Regions from separate parts of the Homo sapiens genome. Here region 2 is linked to region 1. The links come from fine-mapping of genetic effects on gene expression. A gene starts in region 1. The other region holds a variant in brackets. All regions are shown on one strand. Distances are between the middles of the regions. Region 1 holds the start of ZNF821 (zinc finger protein 821). Region 2 holds the start of ATXN1L (ataxin 1 like).

Region 1 (15,346 bases):
GAAAGAATTTTATATGGAGGTTTGCTATTGTAATCTCATTAATGTATAAAATGTCAAAACCCTCTTAATTCCTCTGTTTATACTATTTTGTCTTCTACTCTTGAAGTAACCCAGTAAGATTCAGATAAAGTGCATAGTGCCTGGGATATAGTTTTTTGGTTTTTGTTTGTTTGTTTGAGACGGGGTCTCACTCTGGCACCCAGACTGGAGTGCAGTGGCATAATCTTGGCTCACTGCAGCCTCAACTTCCCAGGCTCCAGCCATCCTCCCACCTCAGCCTTCTGAGTAGCTGGGACTATAGATGTATGCCCCCAGGCCTAGTTTTTTTGTATTTTTTTGAAAAAACGGGGTTTTGCCATGTTGCTCAGGCTGGTCTCGAACTCTTGGGCTCATGCAATCCTCCTGCCTTGGCCTCCCAAAGTGTTGGGATTACAGTGGTGAGCCACTGCGCCCAGCCTATATAGCATGTTTTTAAGAAATTTTAGTTATCTTGTCAATTACTTGACTAATCTGTCCTCTCCAATGTAGGGTTTTAGCCAGCTGCAGTGGCTCATGCCTATAATCCCAGCACTTTGGGAGGCTGAGGTGGGTAGGTCACTTGAGCTCAGGAGTTCAAGACCAGCCTGGGCAACATGGTGAAACCCCGTCTCTACAAAAAATACAAATATTTAGCCGGGCGTGGTGGCATGCACCTGTAGTCCCAGCTACTCGGGAGGCTGAGGTGGGAGGATCGCTTGAGCCCAGGAGGTCGAGGTTGCAGTGAGCTGAGATCACGCCACTGCACTCCAGCCTGGGCAACAGAGCAACACCTCATCTCAAAAAAAAATTATATATATTATATAAAAAAATAAAATATATATAAATATATATGTATATATATTTTATATATATATACACACATATATAGGTTTTTTGTTTTTTACAAACTTTTCATCTGTTATACCTCTGAATTCTCTTCAAATGTTGCTGCACTTTACTCAAACAGTTCATAATAATAGGGAACTATTTGTCTTTTTTTTTTTTTTTTTGATGGAGTCTATGTTTGCCCAGGCTGGAGTCAGTGACACGATCTTGGCTCACTGCAACCTCCACCTCCCAGGTTCAAGTGATTCTCCTGCCTCAGCCTCCCAAGTAGAGTAGCTGGGATTATAGGTGCCTGCCACCATGCCTGGTTAATTTTTTTTGTATTTTTAGTGGAGATGAGTTTTTTGCCACGTTGGCCAGACTGGTCTCCAACTCCTTACCCCAGGTGATATGGCCCACCTCGGCCTCCCAAAGTGCTGGGATTACAGGTGCAAGCCACCGCGCCCGGCCACTATTTGTCTTTTTAACGAACATTTGGGTGGGAACGATTATCTTCCCAGATAATAGGAAAATGGCTAATTATCTCAAATCTGTGTAGATATTAATGTCAATTTAAGAAGGCACTTTTTGAACACCTTCTATGAGTAGTGCTAGAAGTAAAGAGGATACATAAGGAAATACATATGGCACATAGTCTCTGCCTTCTAGAAGTTTACTATGCAATTACTGAAATAAAATATGCAACAGGTGCGGTGGCTCATGCCTGTAATCCCAGCACTTTGGGAGCCCGAGGTGGCCAGATCACCTGAGGTCAGGAGTTCAAGGCCAGCCTCGCCAACATGGTGAAACCCTGTCTCTACTAAAAATACAAAAAAATTAGCTGGGCATGGTGGCGAGCACCTTAATCCCAGCTACTCGGCAGGTTGCAGCAGGAGAATTGCTTGAAGCCAGGAGGCCGATGTTGCAGAGATCACACTGCTACACTCCAGCCTGGGTGACAGAGCGAGACTCTGTCTCAAAAAAAAAAAAAAAAGCAAAGAAAAACATGCATGTGACACTGTTGAAAACAACACAAGGTAATAGTGTATACTTGGCCTTCTGGTTTCTAGCCTCTCCCTCTTGTGATCCATCCCACAAATTGCTTCATAGTACCAAAACGCTGTATTCTAAATGTCACTCCCCTCTCCCTGCTTAAAAACCTTCAGTAGTTCCCTACGGACTATAGAATGAACTTTGAACTTGGCCTGGCATTCAGCCTTCCACGTGTAGAGTTAAGCATCTCTAACCTCACATCTTCTGACTTTTGAACAAATGAGACCTCTGCTTCATATAAAGTCTCCTTGTCCTCTGAACATGTGGATTCCCGCTTCTGTCTTTGCTCACTTCACTTTCCCTACCTGATGTTCCCTCTCCCTGCCTCTTGTTTTTTAATTTTTTTTTTCAAATCCATTTTCTACCCTCTAAGGCCCAGTTCAGGCGCATGGTCTAGAGGCTTTTCCATTAAGCATTCCCCTTGCTACTTCAGTCCACTGAGCTCTTTTAACTTCCTTCCTCCGAACTTCTCTAGTACATACAGTCTGCAGCATCTGTTTGGCAATTAGCATATACTATCATTCATATTTATATATCTGAGGTTACAATACGGTCTTATAGATCTTATATTGGTTTAGAGCCCTGACATCTAGCACAAGGATCTGCAGAGAGTAGGTATCCTATAACTGTTTGTTAATGTGATATTAAAGATATATCAAGTGTACATACCCCTAAGATAGGTTTCCAACACCTCCCCCAGCAACCAGACACACTTTAAATCCACCATTTCCAACATTTTTAACCCTTTTTCTTTCTTTCTTTTTTTCTCTTCTGCTCAGCAAACTGTGTTTTACATTTAAACTTTTCTTCTTCACAAATTAGCGTGAGCTTCTCCCCTAAATTCAGGTTACTCTTCCATTCCACCCCTTAGCATTCCCAGGTTCCAGAAGACAAAGCCCGATACTCACAGTGAACTTTATTTGGATTTGTCTGTTTCCGACGGGACATGTTTCCCTGATGCAAGAGCTCTGGTCTTTCCCAGTTTCACGACTGGATATGTTACTACCTCCTTGCAAGATGCTAACCTGCAATAAAAAAGGTTATTGTTAGCACATGTCATTTTCCCCAGCAGTTACACAAAATTTAAAGATAAAATGTCCTTAAAAAACAGCTCCTGAGCATATAAAACTCACCAGTTATAAATAATTGAACTAATGAAAGAAAGAAAGAAATGAATAAATCTCTAGCCTAACGTCAAGGTCCCAGAAAGTTTAAGAGGGGACTCCCTCAGAGGACTTAGAGAATTATACTCTAAATCCATCTTTGGAATCCAGAATACTGTTAAGTGATCATGATCAAGGTCACAGGATAAAAGAGGAAGTAAAACTCAGGCATCCAGGGTTAGAAGTACTGTGGGCTCAAGGGGATAACTCCGATGAATTGCAAAAGGAAGCAAAAGGAAGCCAAAGAGGGTGGCAGCTCACATGTCACATGCCCACTGGAAGTCAAGCCCTGCAGTCTACACCAGCGGATTTTTCATGATGTTATCTTGCCTAGAGGTAGCAAAGGCATCACATCCCTGCGAGACAGAAAATGTCTCAAATAGGCATCTGTAAATGAGAACAGCATGGGAAATAAAGCCTCTATCTGGTGATACAGGCGCAATGCTATGCTGCACTGTGAATGACATGGCACTAAGCAAATCAAACTTCTAATGTTGAAGATGGGCTCTCACCAGAAGAGACAGATGCCATCCACATTGATGAGTACTAATTCAACACCCCAGTGTGGAATACCACCTGGCCCTCCTCACACATTCCAGAGAGGTGGTCAAAGTTAATAACTTTAGAGGCTCTTCTCAATCTAGCCTCTGGGTAGCAAAGAGAACAGTGGGAGGAATAAAGAGAAAAGTTCCCCAAACGAAAAATGCTGCCAAGACATGCATCTGCTCCCCACCCCATATAGGAGGGGATATATACGTAAGCCTGAAGGTTCCTGATTAACTACAGAAAGAGTGCCCCAGCCTTAAGCATTGTTAGAGAATCTGAGATGGATTAGTATTGATAGCTGTGTCATTTTCTTAGAAAGAGTGAATAAAGACATAGAATAAAAAGGGATTGTCTTTCCTACCAAAGACAGGAATATGGATCTGGTCACACTCTTAAGTTTTCTTTCAGTTCCTGCCTTCTTGAGTTATACTCACATTGAATAAGCAAACATAAAATCATAGTTTATTGCCTTAAGAGGAGTTATGGGAGACTACTGCTAGCTATATTTTGTACTCCAGTTAATGAAGACTCACCTCCTGTTATGCCAACTAACTCCTCTATGTAGCTAGAAGGACCTCAAACCTATAATCAGATCCTGCCTCCCCTTACCAAAAGAATAAAGAAACCGCAAATGGCAAAGACAGGCCTCCACAGGAAGTGGCAAAGGAAGCAGCTTTCAGGCAGTCTTCTAGCATATCTGCATATCAAACACAGTTCTTTTTCAGACCTTTAATTAAAAACAAAACAAAACAAAACTCTAAATGTATACAATAAAAATCAATTTAAACTATTTAGAGGGCAATATACTGAGTGCTGATAGTGTATGTTCTCTAAGTTTTGTGTATGTCATTTTTTTCTAATCAAGTAGTTGTTTTATTCACGGAAGCAGTGAATGAATATCACACTTTGGATTTCCTATATGTGTGTGGAATCACCAAGTGGAAAGGTAATGAAATGCAGGCTCTATTAATATTTTTAAAAATATGGCCAGGCACCGTGGCTCACGCCTGTAATCCCAACACTTTGGGAGGCCAAGGCAGGCAGATCACTTGAGGCCAGGAGTTTGAGACCAGCCTGGCCAATATGGGGAAACCTCTAATAAAAATACAAAAATTAGCTGGGCATGGTGGTGCACACCTGTAAATTCCAGCTACTCGGGAAGCTGAGGCATGAGAATCGCTTGAACCTGGGGAGGGGAGGTTGCAGTGAGCTGGGATGGAGGCACTACACTGCAGCTTGGGCAACAGAGTGAGACTCCATCTCAAAAAAAGATAAAAAACTGCCATGGGCGGTGGCTCTCGCCTGTAATCCCAGCACTTTGGGAGGCTGAGGCGGGTGGATCACCTGAGGTCGGGAGTTTGAGAACAGCCTGGCCAACATGGTGAAACCCCGTCTGTACTAAAAATACAAAAACTAGCTGGGCGTGGTGATGCATGTCTGTAATCTCAGCTACTCAGGAGGTTGAGGCAGGGAATTGCTTGAACCCGGGAGGCGGAGGTTGCAGTGAGCCAAGAACGCACCACTGCACTCCAGCCTGGGCGACAGAACGAGACTCCGTCTCAAAAAAAAAAAAAAAAGATAAATAAAAATTTAAAAAAATAAAATATACTCCTCTAATGTGATAATCTATTGAGGCTAAATATATATATACTCTATTATAGAAGAAAAAACAGAATCTTGACTAATTTTTATATTTTCTCCCTTCAAGATCAGAAACTGAAACTGTAAGATAAAGGTAATAAAGTCCCTTCTGAAGGAAGGCCAAATAATTTGAACCAGACAACATTTCAATATTAAAGCTCCAAGTCAAAAGACAGAGATGAGTGTCTGCGTATTTAAATCAGCAATGCCCGCTGCATCTTATAATCCTCCTAGTGGCCAAATGGGGAACTGACCAGATGGTACCCAATGGGACTTCACACCTGAGTGATCAAGAGAAAAATAAGCAATTACAGTCCCCTCCCACACAACGAAACGAAAATAATAACAAAAACACCCACAAAAACAGGCCTGTGGGGTCATGGGCTGTTGAAAATCAATAAGTAAATAAATAAATGGCGCTGAAAGGACACTCTTGACCACAAAGCAAGATCTCAGAGGCCAGATGACTTGTTTTATAGGCAGTTAAAGCTAATAAAACCCAGAGACATACAGCCCTAAAGGTCACTCATTTTGTTTTACTTTTAACACTGCCTCAATTTCCAAGCCAAAACCTGAAACCAAACCAAACCAAAAATGTAAATAGATAGCTGCCTGAACATGGGCTGGGAAGACAGGTAAACGGTGAGATTCAGGTCTAAAGGGATTCCATTTTAAAAGGAAAGCAGTTCTGTCTGTCTTCAGAGCAAGGTTAAGAGTCCTCGGGAAGGTGCAACGTCTCCCCTGAACACTGTCTCTGCTCTCCCACAGGTATTAGGTTGCAGCGTCTAGGGCACACCACAGACTTTGGCAAGAAAAAAAACGAGTGAAATCTCAGCTTGATGAAAAGAGAGTGCGTTCCCACCTCCAGCTCTGGTGCAGTTCCCACGGAGCAAAGCAAACTCGACTGAATCCAAGTGATCTGTATCTGCCAAAAAGGAGAGGACAAGAAAGCTGGTCACTTAGCCGCCTGGCTGTTCACCTGACCCCTGGGGTTGGGTCTGGGGCGTGTCTAATCAGCCGAGATGGTCCCTCTGCTTCTTCAAGCATGAGCCCAGGTAAATTCCCAGGAATTACCAGACAAGAGCCTGACAAGAGCCGGAGGTCTTCCGAGGCGGCTCAGACAAACCCTTAGACAACACAATCTCCGAAATCTAAATTTAGAAGCTTTTCTGCGAGACCCAGACGCGGGGACTGATACCCCCCGGTCTGCACGCCCACGCCCATCCTCCCCTCCCCCAGCTCCACCCAAGGCTGTCAGACGCCGGGGCCGTCCCCGCCGGGGCCCGAGGAGGCGGGGTGCCCGCGGCCCGCGCAAAAGCCCCCCGGCCCCGCACCCCGCGCCCCGCGCCCGAGAGCGCCAAGGGGCAGCAGGAGGAGCGGCCGGGGAGGAATTGGGGTTGGAAGCGGGGAGGGTGAGCCCGGGCTGCCCCCCTAGGCCGGAGCTGGCCCCCGGCCCTCTCCCCAGTGCAGACAAAAGGACCAACAGCCGGCGGCCGCGAGGGGGCGAGGAGCCCGCATCCCCAGCCCGGACCCGGAGGGAGGGCAGGGGGTCTTTTTACCCGGCGCCTCGGCGCTGCGCTGCGCTCTGGGTCCCTGGGCCCCGCCTCCGGACAGACGGACCGCCGGACAATGGACCCGGGACCGCAGCCCAAGCCAGCCGGGCCGGGGCGCTCCGGGACTGGGCCCCGGCGAGCGGAAGGGGCTCCGGGCCGAGCCGAGCCGGTGGCGGGGAGCCGAGGGGCGGCGCTGCAGACGGACAAAGCCAACAGCAGACAGACAGACGGAGGGGGAAAAAGATGGCGACGCGGGCGGCGGGAGCGCGCGGCTCGCGCACCCGCAGCTAGTGAGGCGCGTGCACGAGCCTCCCTCTCCCCCTCCCCCGCGCCGGCCAGGTCCCCTTCCCCGCGGCCCGGCGCGCGCCTGGCGTTGTGGGCGGGGCCTGAGGAGAGGGGCTCTGGAGAGGAGGGGCTCCGGGGAGCGCCCAATCCCGGGCGCCCGAGAGGGGCTCGCCCGCGTTCCAGGGCTCCGGAACCCCCCGCCTCGCCCATTCCCGGGTCTTTCTCTGGCTGTCTCAGCCGCTCAGCTCCCCCAGACCTTCCTGGACGTGTAAACGCCACCCTACCCAGCCCCGATCCTGGTTTCTTACCCCACCATCGAGTTCAGCCACAAAACCCACAACCCCCAACCACAGCTCCGCCGCAGGCACCCCCTCTCCTTAGCCCGGATCCCCACCACCGTCACAAACCCTCTTCGCCTCATTCCCCCACGCTTCGCGGTGGCTTCGGCTCCCGAGGCTTTGAATGTGACCACGGGCCTTGGTGGGAGGGGCCAAGTTCAGCTGTCAGAACCTCAGAGCTGGGAAATCTTGAGATTTCTTTTGAGTATTTAATTTTCTGACATGATTCTCAACTGATAAAATAACATTGGCTGCAGACCCAGGGGCAGGGGAACTTGTGGCACTGTTGTCACTTGAGGGATGTTTGGGGGCAATGGAGAGCCGTTGGACCTTTTTTTTTTTTTTTTTTTTGAGACAGAGTCTCGCTCTGTCACCCAGGCTGCAATGCAATGGCGCGATCTTCGCTCACTGCAACCTGCGCCTCCCAGGTTCAAGCGATTCTCGTGCTTCAGCCTCCCGAGTAGCTGGGACTACAGGCGTGCACCACCACGCCCAGCTAATTTTTGTATTTTTAGTAGACGGGGTTTCACCATGTTGGCCAGGCTGGTCCCGAACTCCTGACCTCAGGTGATCCTCCCGCCTCGGCCTCTCAAAGTGCTGGGATTACAGGCGTAAGCCACTGTGCCCGGCCTGGTTGGACGCACTTCTAGTCAAACACCTCCTCCTGTCCACGTCCTTCTCTCTCCTAGTTCCTGTTGCCTTCTTTTCTTCCTCTCTTCTAGAATGCCTGAGCCTGCCCTGGCATCGCTTACCTGGAGAAGCAGGGAATGCAGAGGAAAGAAGATGAGATCTGGTATTAGAAGATCTGGCTTTGAGCCCCAGCTCTGCCACCCACCAGCCTGTTGACTTTGGGCAAGTCACTTCCCTGTTCTGAGCCTCTGCTTCCTAAGATGTCAAATGGATAATGATGCAATAATTCCTGGCCTTTACTCTCCGAGGGTTGTTGTGCCAGTTAAGTAAAACAAATGGCTAAAAGCATCATGCAAATGTTTTTCGTGATTACTGGCTGCACAAAGGCAGGGCTAACGAGGATGCTGTCATTTGCTGATAAAGTGACAAGTCCTGGTATTTGCATAGAACATTCTTGCAAATTGTCTTTCCCCTAAATCTTTTATGAGATGATCTCATTGTCTGCATCTTGTGTTCAATGTAATAGAATGATTACATTGAGGGATCTTGGTCCTTCACAATTCTGTGATAAATAGCTCATTCATCATTCACTCATTTATTTATTGTGATTAGGATACTTAGATAGCAATTATTGTTGTTTAACTTCAGTCAAGGAAACATTTTAATTTCATTTAAAAACTTAGTTTCCAAGTAGACAGAAAATGGAATATTATCATCCAACCCGCAAGTGTTTGTACTATTTTGTGTAAGAATACAACCTAGAATACACACTGGCTTTTATATTTAACAGTAATTCTTGATCAGTTTGGACTGAGGGATACAAGTATGGCTTTATTATGTCACTTTAAAGCTGACTTAGTTGACATTTTCAACAGAAAAGTAGCAAACAGGTAAAGTTTGCCTCCAGTGAAATTTCTTGGATGCATTATTATTATGTAATGTTGGGCAGCTTATTCCATCTCCTTGACTTCCAAATAAAATGAGATGATAATAATGCTATTCTTATGACTTCCCTGTGCTCTAAAAATTTCTCAGAGGTGTTGTGATTCAAGGTTACAACCAAATAATGAAAAAATTATTAAATACGTAATTAGTTTAAGTTAGGCATGGTGGCTGGCACCTATAGTCCCAGCTACTCAGGAGGCTGAGATGGTATGATGACTTGAGCCCAAGTGTTTGAGGCCAGCTTGGGCCACATAGTGAAACCCTTGTCTCTTTAAAAAAGAAGAATTAATTTATTTTTCCTCTGCTTTCACCTAAACTTGTTCTACATCTAGAAGACCTTTTAATTAACCATATATATTTTTTTAGCTTCACTTTTTTCTACTTTCCCAATCTACTCACAGTTATGTCATCATTTTGCCACTTCAACTATTTAACTTTCCACTTGAAATATCTTCCTAATCCATTTTATATTTGTTGGCTTCTACAATGACCTTGTTAGGGCTCTATATTCCAACAATAAAGGTAGGAGGATTTTAAGAACCTCATGTTACATTTTTTTAAATTAAGGTATAATTCACATACCATGAAACTCATGCTTTTAAAGTGTACAATTCAGTGGGTTTTGGTACATTCACAGGGTTGACAACATCACTAGTATCTAATTCCGGAATATTTTCATCACCCCAAAAAGAAATCCCATACCCAGTAGCAGTAACTCACCATTCTCCCTTCCTCCAGCTCCTGGCACCCACAAATCTACTTTCTGTCTGTGTGGATTTGCCTATTCTGGACATTTCATATAAATGTGATTGATTATACAGTATGGGACCTCTCGTGTCTGGCTTTTGTCACTTAATCTGGCTTTTGTCACTTAATAGGTTTTCAAGGTTCATTCATGTTGTAGCATATATCAGTACTTAATTCCTTTTTATGGCTGAATTATATTCTGTTGTATGGATATGCCACATTTTATTTATCCATTCATTAGTGGAACGATATTTGGCTTGGGCCTACTTTTTGGCTACTATGCATAATGCTACTATGAACATTTGTGTACAGTTTTTGTGTAAACATATGTCTTTACATTATGTATGGACATGGGTGCATACATATATCTAAGAGTGGAATTGCTTGGTCAAATGGTAACTCTATATTCAACCTTTTTTTTTTTTTTTTTTGAGACCGAGTCTTGCTCTGTCGCCCAGGCTGGAGTGCAGTGGCGCGATCTCGGCTCATTGCAAGCTCCACCTCCTGAGTTCACGCCATTCTCCTGCCTCAGCCTCCCAAGCAGCTGGGACTACAGGTGCCCGCCACCACGCCCGGCTAATTTTTTTTGTATTTTTAGTAGAGACGAGGTTTCACCGTGTTAGCCAGGATGGTCTTGATCTCCTGACCTCGTGATCCGCCCGCCTCGGCCTCCCAAAGTGCTGGGATTACAGGCGTGAGCCATCGCGCGCAGCCCTCTGTGTTCAACTTTTTGAGGAAGTGCTAAACTGTTTTCCTAAGTGGCTGCACCATTTTATATTCCTATCAGCAACATATGGTGTTTCCAATTTCTGCACAACCTGGTCAACATTTGTTATTGTTTGTCTTTGACATTAATGGCCACCCTAGTGGATATAAAGTCATATCTCATTGTGATTTTAATTTGCATTTCTCTAATGACTAAGGATGTTGAATATTTTTTCATGTGCTTATTATTGACCATTTGGAGAATGTCTATTCAAATCCTTTGCCTATTTTTAAATTGAGTTGTCTTTTTTTTTTTTTTTTTGGAATCAGGGTCTCACTCTGTTGCCCAGGCTGGAGTGCAGCACAGTGGTATGATCACAGCTCACTGCAGCATTGACCTCCCTGAGCTCAGGTGATCATCCCACCTCAGCCTCCCGAGTAGCTGGGACTACTGGCATGCCCTTACAGGCACACGCCACCACACCTGAATAATTTTTGTATTTTTTGTAGAGACGGGGTCTCACCATGTTGCTCAGGCTGGTCTGGAACACCTAGGCTCAAGCAATCTCCCCGCCTCAGCCTCCCAAAGTGCTGGGATTACAGGCATGAACCACTGCGCCTGGCCTAAAATTTATTTTTATTTATTTGGTATCCCAAATAAAAATAATATTTATTTTTATTTATTTGGTCACGGCACATAGTGTCCTTTGAAGCACAAAGTTTTTGATTTATATGAAGTCTAATTTATTTTTTCCTTCATTGCTTGTGGTTTGGATGCCATGTCTACGAAACTATCACCGCCTAGTCATGAAAATTTACACCTATGTTTTCTCTTAGGAGTTTTTTAGCTCCTACATTTAGGTCTTCACTCCATTTTGAGTTAGTTTTTGCATATGGTGTGAGGCCGGGGTGGGGGGCAATTTTATTCTTTTGCATGCAGTTATCCAGTTTTCTTAGCACCATTTGTTGTAAAGACTGTTCTTTCCCCCTTTGAATTGTCTTGGTATCCTTGTTGAGAATCAATTGGTTATAAATGCATGGGTTTATTTCTGGACTCTCAGTTCTATTCCATTGACCTATATGCCTATCCTTATGCCACTATCATACAGTCTTGATAAAAATCTGATATTTTAAAGGACAATGTTTAAACTTTTGTGTTTATATTTAGAATCTAGAGTTACAAGTTTTCATGGCTTTGAGTTCATTTAAGGAAAAATTAAGTTTTCTAGATGATTACAATGATGATAAATGTAAAAACCTGATTTGAAAATTTTTTGATCTTATATATGAACCCAAATCACAGTAATAACTGTGATTTAATGCATTTTATTTTCATGTATTGATAAACTCCATATACACAAATTGAAAGTAAAACAGGGCTGGAAATTATTATGGAAACATGGATATACAGGAAGTATATAATCGGGCCAAGCGAGGTGGCTCATGCCTTTGGGAGGCTGAGGTGAGAGAATCACTTGAGGCCAGGAGTTTGAGACCAGTCTGGGCAACATAGTGAGATCCTGTCTCTACAAAAATGTTTTTTAAAAATTAGCCAGGCATGGTGGCATGTACCTGTAGTCCAAGCTACTTAGGAGGATGAGATGGGAACCCAGCAGTTTGAGGCTGCAGGGAGCTGTGATAGTACCCTTGCACTTCAGCCTGATGACAGAGTGAAACCATGTCTTAAAATAAAAAATAAATAAATGAAAAGAAAATATATGATGTTCAGTGTCAAAGTCTGGGTTCAAGATCTGATCCTGGCATTTATAGCTGTTGACCTTAGATTGGTCACTTCATAGCTTTAAGCTTCACTTTCCTCCTATAAAAACTGACAATAGCCGGGTGCGGTGGCTCACACCTGTTGTAATCCCAGCACTTTGGGAGGCTGAGGTGCATGGATCACTTGAGATCAGGAGTTCAAGACCAGCCTGGCCAACATGGTGAAACTCTTTCTCTAATAAAAATACAAAAATTAGCCGGGTGTGGTGGTGCATGCCTGTAAATCCCAGCTACCTGGAAGGCTAAGGCAGGAAAGTCACTTGAACCTGGGAGGTGGAGGTTGCAGTGATCCAAGATTATGCCATTGCACTCCAGCCTAGGAGACAGAGTGAGACTCTGTCTCAAAAAACAAAACAAAAAACAAAACAACAACAAAAAAACAAAAACAAAAGAAAACCCGAAAAAACCTGACCTGATAATGCCAGACCGGGCAGCATGGCAAAACCCCATCTCTACCAAATAAATATAAGAAATTACCCAGGTATGGTGGCATGGCATGTGCCTATAGTCCCAGCTACTCAGGAGGCTGATGTGGGAGGATCATCTGGGCCCAAGATCATGGCTGCAGTGAGCCATGATTGCACCACTGCACTTCAGCCTGCACAACAGAGCGAGACCCTGTCTCAGGCAAAACAAAACAAAAACAAAAACAAAAAAATGATTTTTGACCTGCAGCTGCTTCACAGAAATGTCAGCCTGAAATTGAGATAATGTGTTTATAGGTGCTTTGTAAACTGTAAAATGCCACAAAGATAAGTTAATATTTGTATATAGCCCTAATTAGTGACATTAATTAGTTTTCTGAAGACTTGTTTCATGGGTTCTTTAACAAGTGATCTTGATTTTTTTTTCCTAGGCTTTAGGAAGATGTCCAGAGCAGTTCCTATATCCTTGTATATTCTTTTTTTTATTGTTTTTCTTCTTTTTCTTTTTTTGTTTCATTGTATATTCTTTAGTCTAAATGTTAATAGTTAAAACAAAGGAAATAACTCTATGCCCATCATCTTTCCCTTCTTTCTCTTACACAATGTGTAGTACTTTTATGCAGAAGTCAGCAAACTTTTTTTTTTTTTTCAGACAGGATCTCACTCTGTCTCCCAGCCTGGAGTACAGTGGCACAATCTCGGCTCACTGCAGCCTCCTCTGCCTCCCAGGTTCAAGTGATTCTCCTGCCTCAGCCTCCTGAGTAGCTGGGATTACAGTGCACCACCACACCTGGCTAATTTTTGTATTTTTAATAGAGACAGATTTTCGCAATGTTGACCAGGCTGGTCTCGAACTCCTGACCTCAAGTGATCCCCCTGCCTTACCCTCCCAAAATGCTGGGATTACAGGTGAGCAAACTTTTTCTATAAAGGACCACATAGTAAATATTTTGGGATTTGTGGGCAACATAAAGTCACTGTCACACATTCATGCTCCTCCCCTTCCTGCTTTTTTTTTTTTTTTTTTTTTTTTTGAGAGGGAGTCTCACTCTGTCACCCAGGCTGGAGTGCAGTGGCGCATTCTCGGCTCACTGCAAGCTCCGCCTCCCAGGTTCACGCCATTCTCCTGCCTCAGCCTCCCAAGCAGCTGGGACTACAGGCGCCCGCACCACGCCCAGCTAATTTTTTTTTGTATTTTTTAGCGGAGACGGGGTTTCACTGTGTTAGCCAGGATGGTCTCCATCTCCTAACCTCGTGATCCGCCCGCCTCACCCTCCCAAAGTGCTGGGATTACAGGCGTGAGCCACCGCGCCCAGCCCCTTCCTGCTTTTTAACCTTTTAACAATATAAAAATCATTCTTAGCTGGAGAGGCTGTACACAAAACAGGTTGGCTGATTAAGGCTTGCAGGCCTGTTATAGATTCTTATTTTATTGGGCTCAAACACTGTGTCTGGTTTTAGTTACAGCTACTAGTTATAGTCATTTACACAAAAAAAGTACCTGGTTAGTTACCAAAGAAATGTAATGTGTTAACATTTGTCCCAACAGCAAAACTGGATTTTCAAGGGAAACAGTGTTTATTTTTCAGTATGTTTAGCTTCTGAATGAAACTTGTCTGTTCAGCCAGGGACAGAGATAATATTGTGTTTTTTAATTCCCTCAGAGATACTGTTTCGAATAATTGGCTTGTTGGGGTACAATTCACAGTTGATATATTACAGGATCTAAATAGACAGGTAGGTTTTGTTAAAGCCCAGGACACAGGTGATGATTGCTAAATCTTTACAACTCCCGAGTAGAAAGCAATTTTTCTAAACGAATAAATGAATCATGTCGGCTGGGCATGGTGGCGCACGCCTGTAATCCTAGCACCCTGGGAGGCCGAAGCCGGCAGATCACTTGAGGTCAGGAGTTCGAAACCAGCCTGGCCAACATGGTGAAACCTCATCACTACTAAAAATACAAAAAATCGGCCAAGCGTGGTGTCCCACGCCTTTAATCCCAGCACTTTAGGAGGCTGAGGCGGGCGGATCATGAGGTCAGGGGTTTGAGACTAGCCTGACCAACACGGTGAAACCTCATCTTTACTAAAAATAGCCAGGCGTGGTGGTGCAGGCCTGTAGCAGCTACTCAGGAGGCTGAGGCAGCAGAATCGCTTGAACCCGGGAGGCGGAGGTTGGAGTGAGCTGAGATTGAGCCACTGCACTCCACCCTGGGCGACAGAGAGAGACTCCGTCTCAAAAAAAAAAAAAAAAAAAAAAAAAATTAGCTGGACTTGGTGGTGGATGCCTGTAATCCCAGCTACTTGGTACTTGTAAGGCTGCGACAGGAGAATCGCTTTAACCCGGGAGGTGGAGGTTGCAGTGAGCTGAGATCGCGCCATTGCACTCCAGCCTGGGCAACAAGAGAGAAACTCCGTCTCAAAAAAAAAAAAAAAAAAAAAAAAAAAAAAAAGAATCATGTCACCTTTAGCGCTTTTAGTTAGGTGGGGCTCAATGATACTTTTAGCTTATCTTTTTTCAGTCTGTGAGACAGAGTCTCCCTCTGTCACCCAGGCTGGAGGGCAGGGGCGCGATCTCGGCTCACTGCAAGCTCCGCCTCCCGGGTTCACACCATTCTCCTGCCTCAGCCTCCCCAGTAGCTGGGACTACAGGCGCCCGCCACCAAGCCCGGCTAATTTTTTTTGTATTTT
Region 2 (15,346 bases), 31 kb before region 1:
GACGAGCTTGACGCCATCTCCGGGCGCCCGGCTGTGGGGGGCGCTGGGTGTGGGGCGGCTCCGGGGCCGGGGATGGCGGCGGCCGCGGTTGCGGCGGCTCCGGGACGAGTGAGTGGATCCTGGGAAGCGCTGTGAAATGGGCTGGTGAGTGTCCCTGGAAGTGGTGGCCGCCGGGGCCAGGCAGGCCTGGGGTCGGTGCTCCGGAGGAAGTGGCCCTCAGGAGCCCGTTGCTCCGGCGGGCCGGGGCCCATGAACCGTGGACAGACGGAGGGGAGAGGCCGCACCTAGACCCCCTCGCGCTTCTCTCTGGCCTGTCCTGGAAGGTGGCCTCAGGCCCCGGCGCCCCGGAGGCTGTGTGCCTGCGAGCCAAGGTGTCCGAGTCTGTGGGGCGGGAAGGGCCCCCAAACAAGGAAGCGTCGCCTGCAGGGCCTCGCCCCTGCCCCCTTGGTGAAGGGTGGACCCCCTACTCTCTAAACGCAGAATTCCCAATTTCGAGCCCTACCCTTGTTGGATCAAGGATTGCGGGACCACTGGGAGCCATAACCGTAGTCTCTGACAAGCTTCTCCCTTTCTGTCGGGCGCACCTCTCGCCCGCAGAGAATTTGGGTCTCCAGCTGGGTTCAGCCCCTTGATTCCGACCCAAGCGTGATGAGGAGCTTGGTTCCGGGCTCTGCTAGCAGCGTTGGCAACTCTCCTGAACAGCCTGTTAGCTCGGTTGGGGTCACAAGCTGCGTTTTCCCTTTGAGATGCTCAGTGAGGTTCTCGAGAGGCGGAGGTTTCGGATTCTTAAGTGTGTTTTGCGTTGTGGGAACCTGGCGCACAGGCTTGGCTCTTTGTTTTCCTTTCTGCAGACCTTTTGCCTCTTTCGGTCCCTTTACTAGCCTGTGTTTGCTAACTTCTCGGTGACCTGGAGGCAGGTTTTCTTTAAAGTTTTCGTTACAGAAAGCAAGGATCATTTTGGGATTGAAGTGTGACCCCAGTTTCTGTTGGGAATGAAGAAGAAAGCAAGCTGCTTTTCAGTTATTAAAGCTGCTGGTGGAGAAAAGAGTCATTATTTATGCCACTGTGTAATAATATGTGTTTGTGGAATTAGGAATTTGTTTTCCCACTGTGTTTTCCTATCCTTCCACCTTTTGTGTACACCTGCACCTTGCCAATCTTAAGAGAGAAATGTTGCATTCGGTTTGGGTTGAGGCTTAGAGTGTTCTATAGGACTTGGACAGGATAGTCAGTTTCTCAGAGCACTCACTCATCTGTACTGCCTTCTCTGTTTTCAGAGGTTAAGGCTCCATTCTTTCTCGCTTTGCGTTTCTGGCAAGTGTAGATTCACATAGTGATGGTTTAGTGGTAGTTTTGTTTCACCAGTGTTAGCCAGCTGAGGACCAAGGCAATATTTTCAGTTTCTTTCATACCTGATTCAGCACTTGGTATACTGTCACTCAGAAAATTTTACATACACACACACATATGCTCATTTTTTTTTAACCCTGAAAATCTCTTAATAAGTCTTCTCCTTGAGTGACTCCCCCCTGACCTCTTTTTCTGCCCCAGAAACATAAATAATTGTTCTTTTTCATCTACTGCTGCTTTTTTTCATTTAAATAACTCCACATTTATGTTTTCATAGGCCCAGAATAAAGGGGAAATCCATAGAGTTGATTTTTCCTGCTTCCCATTGTTCATATGGGAACAGTGTTAAAGCTTCCATTTTTATTTGTGCGTTTATCTGAAATTTGGATTGGAGCAAATTTAACCTTTGGGGAACAGGCACAGGTAGATGTTAGGGAAATGATGTTACGGAAAACCAATGAAATTTGATACATGGAAATTTTTTTTCAGGGATGTCTTCTTACAAGTTGGAGCATTAGAGGTGTTTTTCTCTCTGTTCAACTGCCTGGGCACTCTGGGTAAATGTACTGTTTACCTGTGGAGAAGAAGATGAGGCAAGGACGTGTATACTCTAATGCTTTGGAATTACCTTTCATGGTGACCCTGGGGAGAATTAGAGGTCAGGCAGCCGCTTACTCCATTCCTGTTTCTATCTTCTAGGCTCCCGAGCCAGCCGGGAGGACACTTACTACAGCTGCTCAGAAGCACCACTGGAAACTCAGGTAATACCGGCACTTTGAATTCCTTGTTTCAGGAAAATATCTGGGATGTCACAGTGGAAAAACAGAACAGAATGTAATATAGAAAGCTCTTTTCAGATCCAAAGAACTGGAACCTGGTTGGAAGAAATAGGCAGCAAAGTTCATGTGCACTGAAGTGTTCAGACCAAAAAGTTGCTTTATAACAATGGACAAAAGCATTTGTGAAAGGTGACAATAAGAGAAAAGGGAAAGAGAACTTTCTTATGAATCATACAGATACGGGGAAAAAAACAGGCATGTTTAGAGGAATGGAACCAGAATTTCATGGAGTGGTGCCTGGAGCAGACCTACAGTGGAGAAGGAGCTATTGGTAAAAGAAAGCACAAAGAAAAAAGAAAGGGAATGAATAGAGAAGGCAAATTGAAGGTGATCATTGAGAAGAAGCCTTTTGAGACTAGGGAACCGGAAGTGTACGTAAGGTCAGAAGAATTTAGAATTTTGTTGTTCTTTGGTGAAGAGGAGAAACAAGTTGACAGCAAACTAGTTTAATCACTTTCACTATATAGAGGCTGAGTTAAAATGTATTATTTCATGGGTCAAAGATGTTAATTTTCATAACCTGGTTAGGGAGCAAAGTCTTAAAAAAAAAAACAAAACACGAGCAGACCTGAGGGTTTTGGCACCTAGGTCCTTGAGGTACTGATGAGATGAGGCAAAGGAGGAAGAGAGTTTTTAGCCAGGCTTGGGATAGCAGTAGGTGAGATCATAACCCAAATTAGGCTACAGAAAGGAAGCAAGGATGAGGTCATATGTTCAGGAAAGAAGGTGGCACATTCATGTTTGGTAGCAAAAGGAGAAACTTAAGAAAAAGAGCCAGCAGGAGGCTGGGCGCTGTGGCTCACACCCGTAATCCCAGCACTTTGGGAGGCTGAGGTGGGCGGATCACCCAAGGGCAGGCGTTCGAGACTAGCCTGGCCAACATGGTGAAACCCCATCTCTACTAAAAATACAAAGTTAGCCAGGCGTGGTGGTGCATGCCTGTAGTCCCAGCTGCTTGGGAGGCTGAGGCAGGAGAATTGCTTGAACCCGGGAGGCGAGGTTGCGGTGAGCTGAGATTGCACCATGTACTGTGGCCAGGGCAACAAGAGCAAAACTCCATGTGTTTTAAAAAAAAAAAAAAAAAAAAAAAAAAGCAAAAGAGCCAGCAGGAAAGACCATGTGTTCAAAGCCCCCTTTGGGAAGAAGGCAGAAAAGAGACAAGGTGCTTATGAGACACATGACTAACCGTGAAGCTGTTGGTCTCCCTGGGCTTGTGGAGCCCACAGGTTATTTGTGCATTGGTGAATGCGTGTCCCTGTAGCTCTTTGTGCCTTGTGATTTCCCCGACTGTTTCTCTCATGTCCCAGGCTGGATGAGTTGGGGGTAGCCTCCTTGTCTGCCCCTTTCTCTTTCCTCCTTATTTTCTAACAGTCCCCTTTGTTACATCTTCCTCCATGGCACAGTTCTTTCTATTTCCTTTGTCTTGGCTCATCCCTAGGTTACTTTTCTTTGCCTCTGATTTGTTCCCTAATAGATGTGGGCGCCCCAGCCAGAAGCAGAGAGGGGTACAGGGAAGCTACAGAGAAGCCCCTTCTGATGCCCCAGGGAGCAAGTCGACTCCTTCCAGGCTCCAGGAACACCACAAAGCAATATGAAACCTGTTCATGAAAGGAGTCAGGAATGCCTTCCACCAAAGAAACGAGACCTCCCCGTGACCAGCGAGGATATGGGGAGAACTACCAGCTGCTCCACTAACCACACACCCTCCAGTGATGCTTCTGAATGGTCCCGAGGGGTTGTGGTGGCTGGGCAGAGCCAGGCAGGAGCCAGAGTCAGCCTGGGGGGTGATGGAGCTGAGGCCATCACCGGTCTGACAGTGGACCAGTATGGCATGCTGTATAAGGTGGCTGTGCCGCCTGCCACCTTTTCACCAACTGGACTCCCATCTGTGGTGAATATGAGTCCCTTGCCCCCAACGTTTAATGTAGCGTCTTCACTAATTCAACATCCAGGCATCCACTATCCTCCACTCCACTATGCTCAGCTCCCATCCACCTCGCTGCAGTTCATTGGGTCTCCTTATAGCCTTCCCTATGCTGTGCCACCTAATTTCCTACCGAGTCCCCTCCTATCTCCTTCTGCCAACCTTGCCACCTCTCACCTTCCACACTTTGTGCCATATGCCTCACTTCTGGCTGAAGGAGCCACTCCTCCCCCACAGGCTCCCTCCCCGGCCCACTCATTTAACAAAGCTCCCTCTGCCACCTCCCCATCTGGGCAATTGCCACATCATTCAAGTACTCAGCCGCTGGACCTTGCTCCAGGTCGGATGCCCATTTATTATCAGATGTCCAGGCTACCTGCTGGGTATACTTTGCATGAAACCCCTCCAGCAGGTGCCAGCCCAGTTCTTACCCCTCAGGAGAGCCAGTCTGCTCTGGAAGCAGCTGCTGCAAATGGAGGACAGAGACCACGAGAGCGAAATTTAGTAAGACGGGAAAGTGAAGCCCTTGACTCCCCCAACAGCAAGGGTGAAGGCCAGGGACTGGTGCCAGTGGTAGAATGTGTGGTGGATGGACAGTTGTTTTCAGGTTCTCAGACTCCACGGGTAGAGGTAGCAGCACCAGCACACCGGGGGACCCCGGACACTGACCTTGAGGTCCAGCGGGTGGTTGGCGCTTTAGCTTCTCAGGACTATCGTGTGGTGGCAGCTCAGAGGAAGGAGGAACCCAGCCCCCTCAACCTATCCCATCATACCCCCGACCATCAGGGTGAGGGGCGAGGGTCAGCCAGGAACCCTGCAGAGCTGGCAGAGAAAAGTCAGGCCCGTGGGTTCTACCCTCAGTCCCATCAGGAACCAGTAAAACATAGACCTTTACCCAAAGCAATGGTTGTAGCCAATGGCAACCTGGTGCCCACTGGAACTGACTCAGGCCTGCTGCCTGTGGGCTCGGAGATCCTGGTAGCATCAAGTCTGGACGTGCAGGCCAGAGCCACCTTCCCAGACAAGGAGCCAACGCCGCCCCCCATTACCTCCTCTCACTTGCCTTCCCATTTCATGAAAGGCGCCATCATCCAGCTGGCTACGGGAGAGCTGAAGCGGGTGGAGGACCTCCAGACCCAGGATTTTGTGCGCAGTGCCGAAGTGAGCGGGGGGCTGAAGATTGACTCTAGCACGGTCGTGGACATTCAGGAGAGCCAATGGCCTGGATTTGTCATGCTGCATTTTGTGGTTGGTGAGCAGCAGAGCAAAGTGAGCATCGAAGTGCCCCCCGAGCACCCCTTCTTTGTATATGGCCAGGGTTGGTCCTCTTGCAGCCCTGGGCGGACGACACAACTCTTCTCTCTGCCCTGCCATCGGCTACAGGTGGGAGATGTCTGCATCTCTATCAGTTTACAGAGCTTGAACAGTAACTCAGTTTCTCAGGCCAGCTGTGCTCCCCCAAGCCAGCTGGGTCCCCCCCGAGAAAGGCCTGAGAGGACGGTCTTGGGATCCAGAGAGCTATGTGACAGTGAGGGGAAGAGCCAGCCGGCAGGAGAGGGCTCCCGTGTGGTAGAGCCTTCCCAGCCTGAGTCCGGTGCTCAGGCCTGCTGGCCAGCCCCGAGCTTCCAAAGATACAGCATGCAAGGGGAGGAGGCACGGGCTGCGCTGCTCCGTCCCTCTTTCATTCCACAGGAGGTAAAGCTGTCCATTGAAGGGCGTTCCAATGCGGGAAAATGAACCTCTTCCCCAGACCAGGACTGGGGCTTTACCCCAGAGCCTCGCCTCGCCGCCGTGAGCAGGCAGAGGATTTGCACACGCCGAGCAGGGAATGGCTTTCTTGGCAGTGAGATTTGGGGGAAAGGGGAGGCATGAAGTCAGCCTCCCAAGGCAGGATCTGTTGTTCATTACCCCATGGCATCCTTTCAGGACAACCCCAGAGGGTGTTGTGATGGGGAGCAGCAGGCCTGGGGCAAGGAAGGAAGGGGGTGCACACAGGAGAAGAAACATTCCAAAATCAGGGCCTCCCTGTTCTTTCCTCCCCATCCCTAGCTCCTGCAAGAGAAAGTCCAGGCTTTGGGAGCAGATGGCAGAGGGAGGGAGTAAAGAAAGAGCCAAAAATGATGATCCACAGCTTATAGTAGCAGTTAAACTGTCAGAAGTTTTTTTTCTTTTTTGTGGTAGAAGGGCAGGAGGCCCCAAGGTTGGAAATAAGAGGGTTCCCACCCAGAACCCTTCTTGTGAGAGATGCGCACTTTAAAGGGTGATTTTGTTCCAGATGTCTATGGCTGGGTGTGTGGGGGAGGAGCACTCTCATCTGCAGGACTCTGCTTGATCCTCTGCTTCATAGCCCTTCCCCATCTCTCCTCACCATTCTGCCTACAAGGCTTCTAGCAGCACGGGGGCCCGGAGGGAGAGCCCCTTCAGGGTTCAGAGTGAAGTACTACCTTGCCAGGGACTCAGTCAGGGGACTTTGGGAGAAAGACTTGATAGCCAGGCTGACTGGGTTCTAGGCAGGCCCTCTGGAAAGGTAGCTCACCTAACAAAGCTCCTCCATCTCAGCATGCCAGACCCACTTTGAAATCTCACAGAATCTTGCTGGTAATGGTGACTTTAGAACTAGTAGACCCTTTTTCCCAGGCACTGACCCCCCACCTTTGTCTGTGTTGTGCCCAAGTGCCTGCGCCACCCCCACCCTCCTGCTGCGCTGACCGCTGCATGGTGTCGTGACCTGGGCCTCATTTGTAGCTGCACTGCCTTTCCTTGTCTGCAAAGTTGGTTTTGTCCACTCTGACCAAGACCTCTAGTTTTTGGTGGGTAGGGGGTCTCTCTGGTTTCCCCTTCAGCTATAATCTCTATTTTTAAAATCTCAAAATCATGTCCCCTCCACTTCCACTGCCAAACAGCTTGGTGAAGAAACAAGAAGGGAACTATGCCCTGGGCCAGGGCGAATGCGTGGCTGGGCAGTGCCCATCATGGCATTTTCACATGTCCCATATGCCCCTCCTGTCTTATTCCACTGCTTCTCCCAGCATTCTGGTGCCTCCAAGCCATCCCCTCCCACCACCAGCTCTAAGATTCTAGGATAGTCTTGATAACATTTCAGTACCTGAATAGATGTCATTTTGTGTTGGTATATTCCTCTGCAAAAAGTATTTTCAATCTTGGTTGCATTGGCACCCCCCCTACCCCCCACCAATGTCTTAATCCCACATTTTCTTCACAACTTTTAGCATCAGCTCAGACCGTGGGGTTCCACTGGGTATTGGGAATTAGGCTCCCCCACTAGCTTTCAGGTGGGTAAGTTTTTTTGTTTGTTTTTTGGGGGTCTTTAGACTCTTGAAGGCAACTCAGGGTATTGTCCACGCAGCTCTCTGGTTAGACTTCTCCCAGGCTATGATCCTGGC[A/G]TGTCCTTTATAAGGTATACTTGGATTGGCCGAGACCTGGCCTGGCATCAGGAGTCCAAACCTCTGAGGTCTGATCTCTGCTCTGTCAAGGACTTTCGGCAAGTCTCGTGACCTCTGGCTCTTTCACTTCCTCCCCACCTGCCAAATGGGGATAAATAATCTTACCTACCTCCTGGGGGGAGGGGAAGTTCTGAGAATGGAGTCATTCTTAGTGTTCAGGTGCTAAAGGTTGTTCTCCTGGGGGAACAGAGTGACTGAAACTGGCTTGTTTGCTACAAGCCCTACCCTCCACTCTTTCATTCCTTGAAAGCAGTTTGCCTGGTCAGTCAGCTTTTGGGGGTCCATCAAAGGAGGTTGCTGACCTGACCGTGAGTGCTTCAGTATCTGGTTTGTGTCAGAACCAGACGCCAACTTTGTACTGCATTTGGGATCATATCTTTCCCCTTCTCTGTCCCCCATTCTCTGAATGCTGCTTTCTCTGGCTTGTTTCCTACAGTGGGGGCCTGTGGGGTTGAGTCTTGAGGAATCCCCTCAAATGAGAAGGCCTTGGGAGAAGGCCTCATCTCTGGCTGTTTCATGAGCAACTCATTCCTAGAGTTCATTGTTTGCATGGGTTTCTCACAAGCGTCCTTCCTCATAGGAAGGCTCATCAACTGAATTTAGTGACATGTACACAGTAGATGCTCAAGCAGTGTCTGCAAGGACACAAGCTGAGCTTTCTCCTTATGGGGCAAACCTATGTCTAACCAGATACAGACCAATTAGTTTAGATCAAATCACCTTCCACTTGGGCTACTTGTGACTTTCCAACCTGGTAACTTCCACTGAATTCTGGAAAGAGAAATTCTTGAGGACCCTGGCAAGTTGGGCCCTGACCTTTCTGTTGCTGTCTCTTGCTGGTGAAGCAATACCAGCAGTTCCTGTAATACCACAATATCGTTCCATGCATATATAACATATTAATACTTGATTTTGCTGAGCTGCAAAGGTATCTGTCATAAAATATGGTCCCCAGGAAAAGAATCTCTGTGCTCTAAATCTCGGTCAGAGCTGTGGCCTCCCCCTTGCCTTTAACCTCTAGTTTAGTCTTTTCCTCCAGGCATGAAAAATATGACTAACCTGTGGTGTGTCCATTCTTCCTTATAGGAATTTCCTGAGTTTGCAGGAGACATGAGAGCAGTTTTTAGCGAGTATTTTAGTGGGAAGTTGCCAACTTTTTAAGAATGAGCAGTTGACAAGGGCCAGAGCCTGTCCCTTGTCAGCAGTAGGACATTTCCAGCTCTTAGGAATAGAAAGGAGGACTGCTGACTGTCTGGCGCTGTATAAAAATGTGTATACCAATTTGGGAATAGGGGAACCCAGTCATGGATGGATAATAAGCCAAGTCTTGAATCATTCCTATCAAGATTAGTATACATGAGGAAGAGGTGGCATGGGGGGAAGGGGCTCTGGGAGTTCAGAGCTGAGTACTTGTACCTGAGGGAGGGCCCCCAGCCAATCTGGGCTGGTCCTTCTATATTCTTGGTCCCAGTTGGTCATAACACCAAGGGCTTTGCCCTGCGCTGCTTTGCCACTGCTGCTGTCCGCTCACTGTCCTGCCTGCTGTCCTCTACAGCTCCCTATCCTTCCATGTCTTTGGCCATGTAGATTAAGTGTAGGCGTCCGGTTCATTCTTACCTGTGTTAGGCCATGTTATTTTATAGCGAAGTCATGTTCGATAGGGATGGTATGAAATGCTGCTGGTGGGCTGGTAAATCCAAAGGGATAAGGCTTCAGTGCTGTTGGGAGCCCTCTGGCTCCAAATGTCTGACTATCTTGAGGGAGAAACAAGCAGGTTTCTACTAGTGGTGTCTTCTGTTGTATTAACTTCTTTCCTTTGTGGTATCTTGTATCCTGTTTTAAAAACTAAATGAAGGGAACCACATTAGGGCCCATGCCAGCATCCCAGTGAAGTTCGTCCAGCTCCAGTTAGGTGGATTCTGGAGTTCGGAGAGGGTTTAAAGTTTGGCTGAAATAGCACCTCAAGTGGGGTTTAGTTTTATTTTTACCTGCGGGCATCATGGGCGATTTAGGGGGAAGCACAGGATGGTGGTGTGGTTTAAACCTGCAGCAAGCAGGCATGTTGAAGAGTTGAGTGATCACGCTGGAGATGAAGGGTTGGACATGGATTGACTGGGAAAAGGCCTGGGTCCATTGGAGTAAAGATAACCTAGTCGATTGAATTGGCCATGGGAAGTTAGGTCACAGTCTTATAAACAAAGTAAATAGGACAGAGACTAAGTTTTAGGGAGACATCTTGGCCTCCTAGGCTAAGTTTACTAAACCACACTGAAGCTATAGTACCTTCCAGATGGGCAAAAGTGTACACTACAGTTGAGGAGCTGAACCTTATTAGGTTGGATGTCGATCAGGAACCTGTTTGCCCTTTGCTGGGAAGCCTTCACTCTCCAGCTTTCCTGGGGTAGGGAAGGTCTCCCACATTATGCAATAATAAAATAAGCATCTGGGTCTTTGCAGCTGTCAGTTGCTCTTTCAACTCTAGGATCCATCTTTGGACCAGAAGCCTGGTCTGTGCCTAGGATGACACTGGCCCCAGAGATGCTAGAGTCGACTGCACTCTCTCCTTAGCTGCAGACCATGCACAGTGCCTGGGGCGGAAGGAGGAGAGGTGTTGCGGTTTGCCCTGCTGCCTCCCCAGCAGGAACAATAGTCATAAATGCACTTTTCACACTAAAGGTTTCTTTATTAGTTCTCCAGTTAAACCTAGATCCCTCCCTGGTAGATTGCGAACTCAAAGTTTTGTGATCCCAAAGCCATTCCACTGCAAATGCCCAGCAGTGAAGATGGCCTCAAATTGGGTTCTTGCCTGCAGTGTGTGTGGCAGCAGCCCATGTGCCTTTACCTGTTGTCAAACTTGCAAGCATTTATTTGTCTTTATGACTGTCATGGGGACTGAGGTTCTTCAGAGAAAGAGTGTGAGCTGATGACACAGTGGTTTTACACCCACCCCCTGGGCAGGGAGTTTGCACGTAGTTGTGAGCTGTGAGTGGTTAGTGCATTGCTGGTATTGCTGAAGGCAGGGTTGATCCCTCACTTGACTGATACTTGCATTCAAGAGAATCTAGATTGTGTTGGGGGAGGGACTGACTGTACTCATGGCTAACTTAAAGTATTAAAATAAGGCTGTCCCCTACAACCTTCTTAGTCACACAGGATCCCTGTAGCCAAAACAGTATATGATCCAGCTGCAGAGAGCAGACTGCTCTCAGCTTGCACAGCACCTTAGGCGAGGGAAGAATATACGGATAGGGAATGGGGTGGAGAAAGGATGGGAATGTTGTCATCCAGGTGGCTTTAGGGTCCTAAGGAGTGGAGAAGGATGGCACTGGGGAGGTCTGGATGGATCTGTGTAGGAGTTCCCTGTAGATAAATTACTGATCCCCCATCTACTATCCCCAGTATGTAATGGCTGAATTAATATGTAATCAACTGCATTGTATCTAAAGCCTTAGAACTAGTCAGGTGCTCCCTCCACCCAATACCATTTCTTACCCTCTAATCCTACCTGATCTTTAACAAAGCATTAATAATTCTAAGGATAATCTCTATTTTGTTGTGCTTTTTTGTAACTGTTTTAAATAAATCAATTTGTACTGTATATTTGTACTTTTGTGAGATCCTTTTTGCTGTTTTACCATTTTAAGTCTCTGTACTTGGCTACACACAGATTGTATTTTTATTGTTAATGCTCTTCTTATGGATACCTGCATTTAACTTGTGGACTATGTAAACACAATATCTATCAATATCTATATATCTATATATCTATCTATATAAACTACTAGCTTTTCCTTTTGGTGTTTGCGCCTTCTTCCTATCCCAGCCTTAGATGGTGGCCATGGGGTGGGGGATAGAAACCTTTGTGGGAGCAGTTGTAATGGAACACAAATGGTGGCTTTATTTGTGCGGTGAGCTCAAGGGAGATGGCATGAGCTTGTCCTCAAGCATGGTCTTTCCCCTCTGTTGGTGTGGATTTCAGAGACCCGGAAGTCTACCTGAACACTTAGATTCTAGTGGAATCACAAGGATCTGTAGGTGCCTTCGCTGCTGGCCTTCTCCCCAATTCTTTACTCAGGAATACTGCCAGAAATTGCTGGAATAAGTCAGCCCCAATCATAGCTACTGCCTAAAATTTAGAAAGCTTGCCACTAGTAATGGCATTTATGGAACACTTATTATGGGCTACAAAATATCCTAAGTGCTTTGTATGTACGGACAAGCTTTTTTTGCTAGTATTATTTCCATTTTGTGGATGGGGAAGCCAAGACATAGAGGTTAAGTAACCTCCCCAAAGTTACACAGCTAGTGTGGCAGGGCACTTCTGAACCCAGAGGTGCAACTCTTGAGTTTGTATGAATTCAGAGTTTCTTGTGAAGATTGAGATCATCTATGTAAAGCGCTTAGAATCATCTGTGGCACATGGTGAGGACTCAGTCATTTTAAAGCATCCCAAGTAGGACTCCAGTATGGAGCTCTGGGAGAAAGGCATTTGGGTCAATTAAGTAAATTAAACAGTTTTTGTTTGTTTTTTTTTGTTGTTGTTTTTTTTTTTTTAGATAGAGTCTCACTGTGTTGACAGGCTGGAGTGCAGTGGCACAATCTCAGCTCACTGCAACTTCCACCTCCCGGGTTCAAGTGATTCTCGTCTTCGGCCTCCCGAGTAGCTGGGATTGATTACAAGCACGCCAACTAAGTATTTTCTTTTAAATGTATTTTTCAAAACAAATATTTTAGCCTGCTTGGTGAAAGTACCTTAGTTTGTTAGCTGGGTGTGGTGGTGCACACCTATAGTCCCAGCTACTTGGGAGGCTGAGGCAGGGGGATCACTTGAGTCCAGGAGTTAGAGGTTATGGTGAGCTATGATCTTGTCACTGTACTCCAGCCTAGGTGACAGAGTGATATCCTTTCTCAAAAAAGCAAACTCCAGGCAGGGTTCTACGTAGCTCGCGCCTGTAATCCCAGCACTTTGGGAGGCCAAGGCAGGGGATCACCTGAGGTCAGGAGTTCAAGACCAGCCTGGCCAACATGGCGAAACCCTGTCTCTACTAAAAATACAAAAAGTAGCCGGGTGTGGTGGCACGTGTCTGTAACACCAGCTACTCGGGAGGCTGAGGCAGAATTGCTTGAACTCGGGAGGCAGGGGTTGCAGTGAGCCAAGATCACGTCATTACACTCCAGCCTGGGCAACAGAGCGAGACTCCGTCTCAAAAAACAAACAAAAAACAAAAAACAAAACCCCTAGTTTGGCGGGGGTCAGTTGACACTGTTAAACAGCCTTGGACCTATGGAGGTCAGAGAGGAATCCAAGTTTCCCTGTTAAGATATTGGAAGAAGTCCGCATTCCTGGCATAGTTATTTTTCTGGCTACAATTTAACTAGGGCACTTCCTTCTGGACCTCAAGATCTATAATTATCTAAACTGAACACAACCTTTGGTGCAGGCTAGGAAGGTTCTGTGCCTGTTCTGTACCATCACAGAAACTTTTTAGAAATGACCTCAGCTCTTGTCTCCTCCATGGTTTGGCAGTCATACAACCTGCCAGAGTAATCATTTTGCCCTAGCCTTAACCTGAGCTCTCTTACCACCTTAATTCTGGATTTTCTTCAGTGAGCTTATTTTCCTTCCTTGCCTCTGGTGAACAAATAAAACACAAATAAAATGCAAACATGAGTTTCTTGGTGCTGTGCACCTTAATATTGCAGCTATTTCTATGAGCCTATTCCTAGATGCAGCTGACTACTGTCTAGAATTGTAAATGTTCGACAATATTGCTGGGAAAAGTTGCACACCTAGTTGAAGGTATTGCATAGTCTTTAGAAAACAGCAGTTATGAGAAGAGACTTCTTCTGAGTTTGGAAAAGGTAAGCTAGGTTTAAACAGCCCTTGGGACCACAGGTATCTTCATTATGGTTGTGGGAATAATCATCACAGTCAACATCGGTTCTTTCTTCGGTGTCATGCTAATTCCTCGGCAACTTGTAAAGGCCCAAATAAGGACCTCTGCTTGGACAGCCTAAGCTGAGGAGCATCCTCCCTAAGAAAACGGCAAGCCACCAGAAGCCACTGTCTGAAAATTTCCACCCAGGTTTCTCCTAGATCACTTCATTTGCTAGAATGACATTGAGAGAAAAGCAAGAAAGGGGCAGTAAAGATAAAATTAATTTATTTGACTTCACAACTTCATGGGCCACACAGGGGCCCCACAGTCCTAGAAGCACAGCCTGTGGCAGTGGGCTGGGGAGGCCAGTTCTCTGGACTGCCTGCTCCCTTGTCCAGAGCTGCCTTGAGCCAGGTCCCTCCTGACCCCATCATCCTGTTCCCATATGCAAGGGCTGCTCAGGTCCACCTGCAATAAACCCAGGCCTGCCTCTGGCAGCAAGGACAGGGCCTCGTGGGTGGCAGCAGCACTGGTCCTCGTGGCTGTGGGTGTGGGTGGGTGGGTAGGTAGGTGGGAAGGAGGGCAGGCAGGAGGGTGTGGTTCAGTGCAGAGAGCTGCTGTTCTGCTCTTCAAAGGCCATCTTGCCCAGAAGCTGGCTGTCCAACTCCACCCCACTTACAGGCAGCTGGAAGAAGTTCATTTCAGCTGCTAAGGCTGCCATGGCAGAAGGGTCCTGGCCAAACTGAGCTCGCAACATCATGTCCATTTTCTCCAGCCTCCTCTTGAGCCGCTTGGCCTCTCGCTCTCGGATGAGCCGGGCCTGCCGCTTTTCCGGGGTTTCATTGGCCCGCTTCAGCCTCATGGCCTCCCGATCCCGCTGCAGCCGGCGTGCCCGCTGCTCGTCTGTCTCCTGCATGCGCTGCAAGCGCTTGGCTTCACGGTCCCTCATGCGCCTCACCTCCCGCTCCTCGGGGGTCTCATTGTCCCGCCGGCTCTTCTTGGCCGTGCGCTCTCGTTCCAGCCGCTGCAGCCGTACTTCCAAAGGCTCATTCTGTCGACGTAGAGCCCACTTGCGTACACTGGGAGTCTGGGCTTCCAGCAGTTTACGGTAGGCAGCACAGTTGTTGCACACAAGCAGAATTCCAGCAGGGTACACTGGAGGACTAAAGGCAATATCCTTCCCCTCAGCACTGGAGGGACCCTCATTGTGGACTGTGGGTAGGGATTCCATATTTAGTACTTCAGGAAGTTTCTCACTGGAAAGGAAACATTTTGGATGGTTAGTGTTTCCTTCTAGCAAGAGTCGGGACTCCAGCCCTGCCTTATTCTTTTCCTATGAGGCCAGTGGCTCCACGCTCACCACAAGGGGTCAGTTTGAATGCTTGGTGGACCTCTTCTGCTGCTCCATCCCTTCTCTTCGCGTGAGAGTTGTCTACCAACTTTTTTTTTTTTTTTTTGAGACAGAGTCTTGCTCTGTCGCCCAGGCTGGAGTACAATGGTGCAATCTCAGCTCACTGCAACCTCCGCCTCCTAGGTTCAAGCCATTCTCCTGCCTCAGCCTCCTGAGTAGCTGGGATTACAGGCGCACGCCACCACGCCCGGCTAATTTTTGTATTTTTAGTAGAGACGGGGTTTCACCACATTGGTCAGGCTGGTCTCAAACTCCTGACCTTGTGATCCACCCGCCTCGGCCTCCCAAAGTGCTGGGATTACAGGCGTGAGCCACTGTGCCCGGCCGGGTGTCTACCAACTCTAAAAGCCCATCTGGAGTTAACTGAGCCACCTGCCACAGCAATGCACCAGAAATCAGACAAACCCTTGGTGTTTTCACTCAAGCCAGAATAATGATTTTGATAAGAGCTTTGCAGGGGCAGTCCTGCTGTGGGAATG

The links. PIP is the estimated chance that this variant, and not a neighbour inherited with it, causes the effect.
Region 2: its variant is the best candidate, but not a certain one, in a credible set for the expression of ZNF821 in whole blood (INTERVAL, PIP 0.76).

Annotation. Positions count from the first base shown.
Region 1 is chr16:71,877,103-71,892,448 of GRCh38, forward strand. It overlaps ZNF821 (zinc finger protein 821), which reads right to left and starts at 7,080. Exons shown (of 8, transcript NM_001201552.2): 1 at 6,806-7,080; 2 at 6,109-6,171; 3 at 2,805-2,921. The coding sequence starts at 2,844. RefSeq lists enhancers at 5,906-6,105, 7,946-8,446 and silencers at 6,466-6,585, 6,606-7,365.
Region 2 is chr16:71,845,961-71,861,306 of GRCh38, forward strand. It overlaps ATXN1L (ataxin 1 like), which reads left to right and starts at 16. Exons shown (of 3, transcript NM_001137675.4): 1 at 16-144; 2 at 2,050-2,111; 3 at 3,664-11,368. The coding sequence starts at 3,781. The coding sequence ends at 5,850. It overlaps ZNF821 (zinc finger protein 821), which reads right to left. Exons shown (of 8, transcript NM_001201552.2): 8 at 13,725-14,712. The coding sequence ends at 14,058. RefSeq lists enhancers at 1-632, 434-503, 4,740-5,519, 7,339-7,478, 9,979-10,028 and a silencer at 1-213. The variant A/G (reference allele first, on the strand shown) is at 7,518.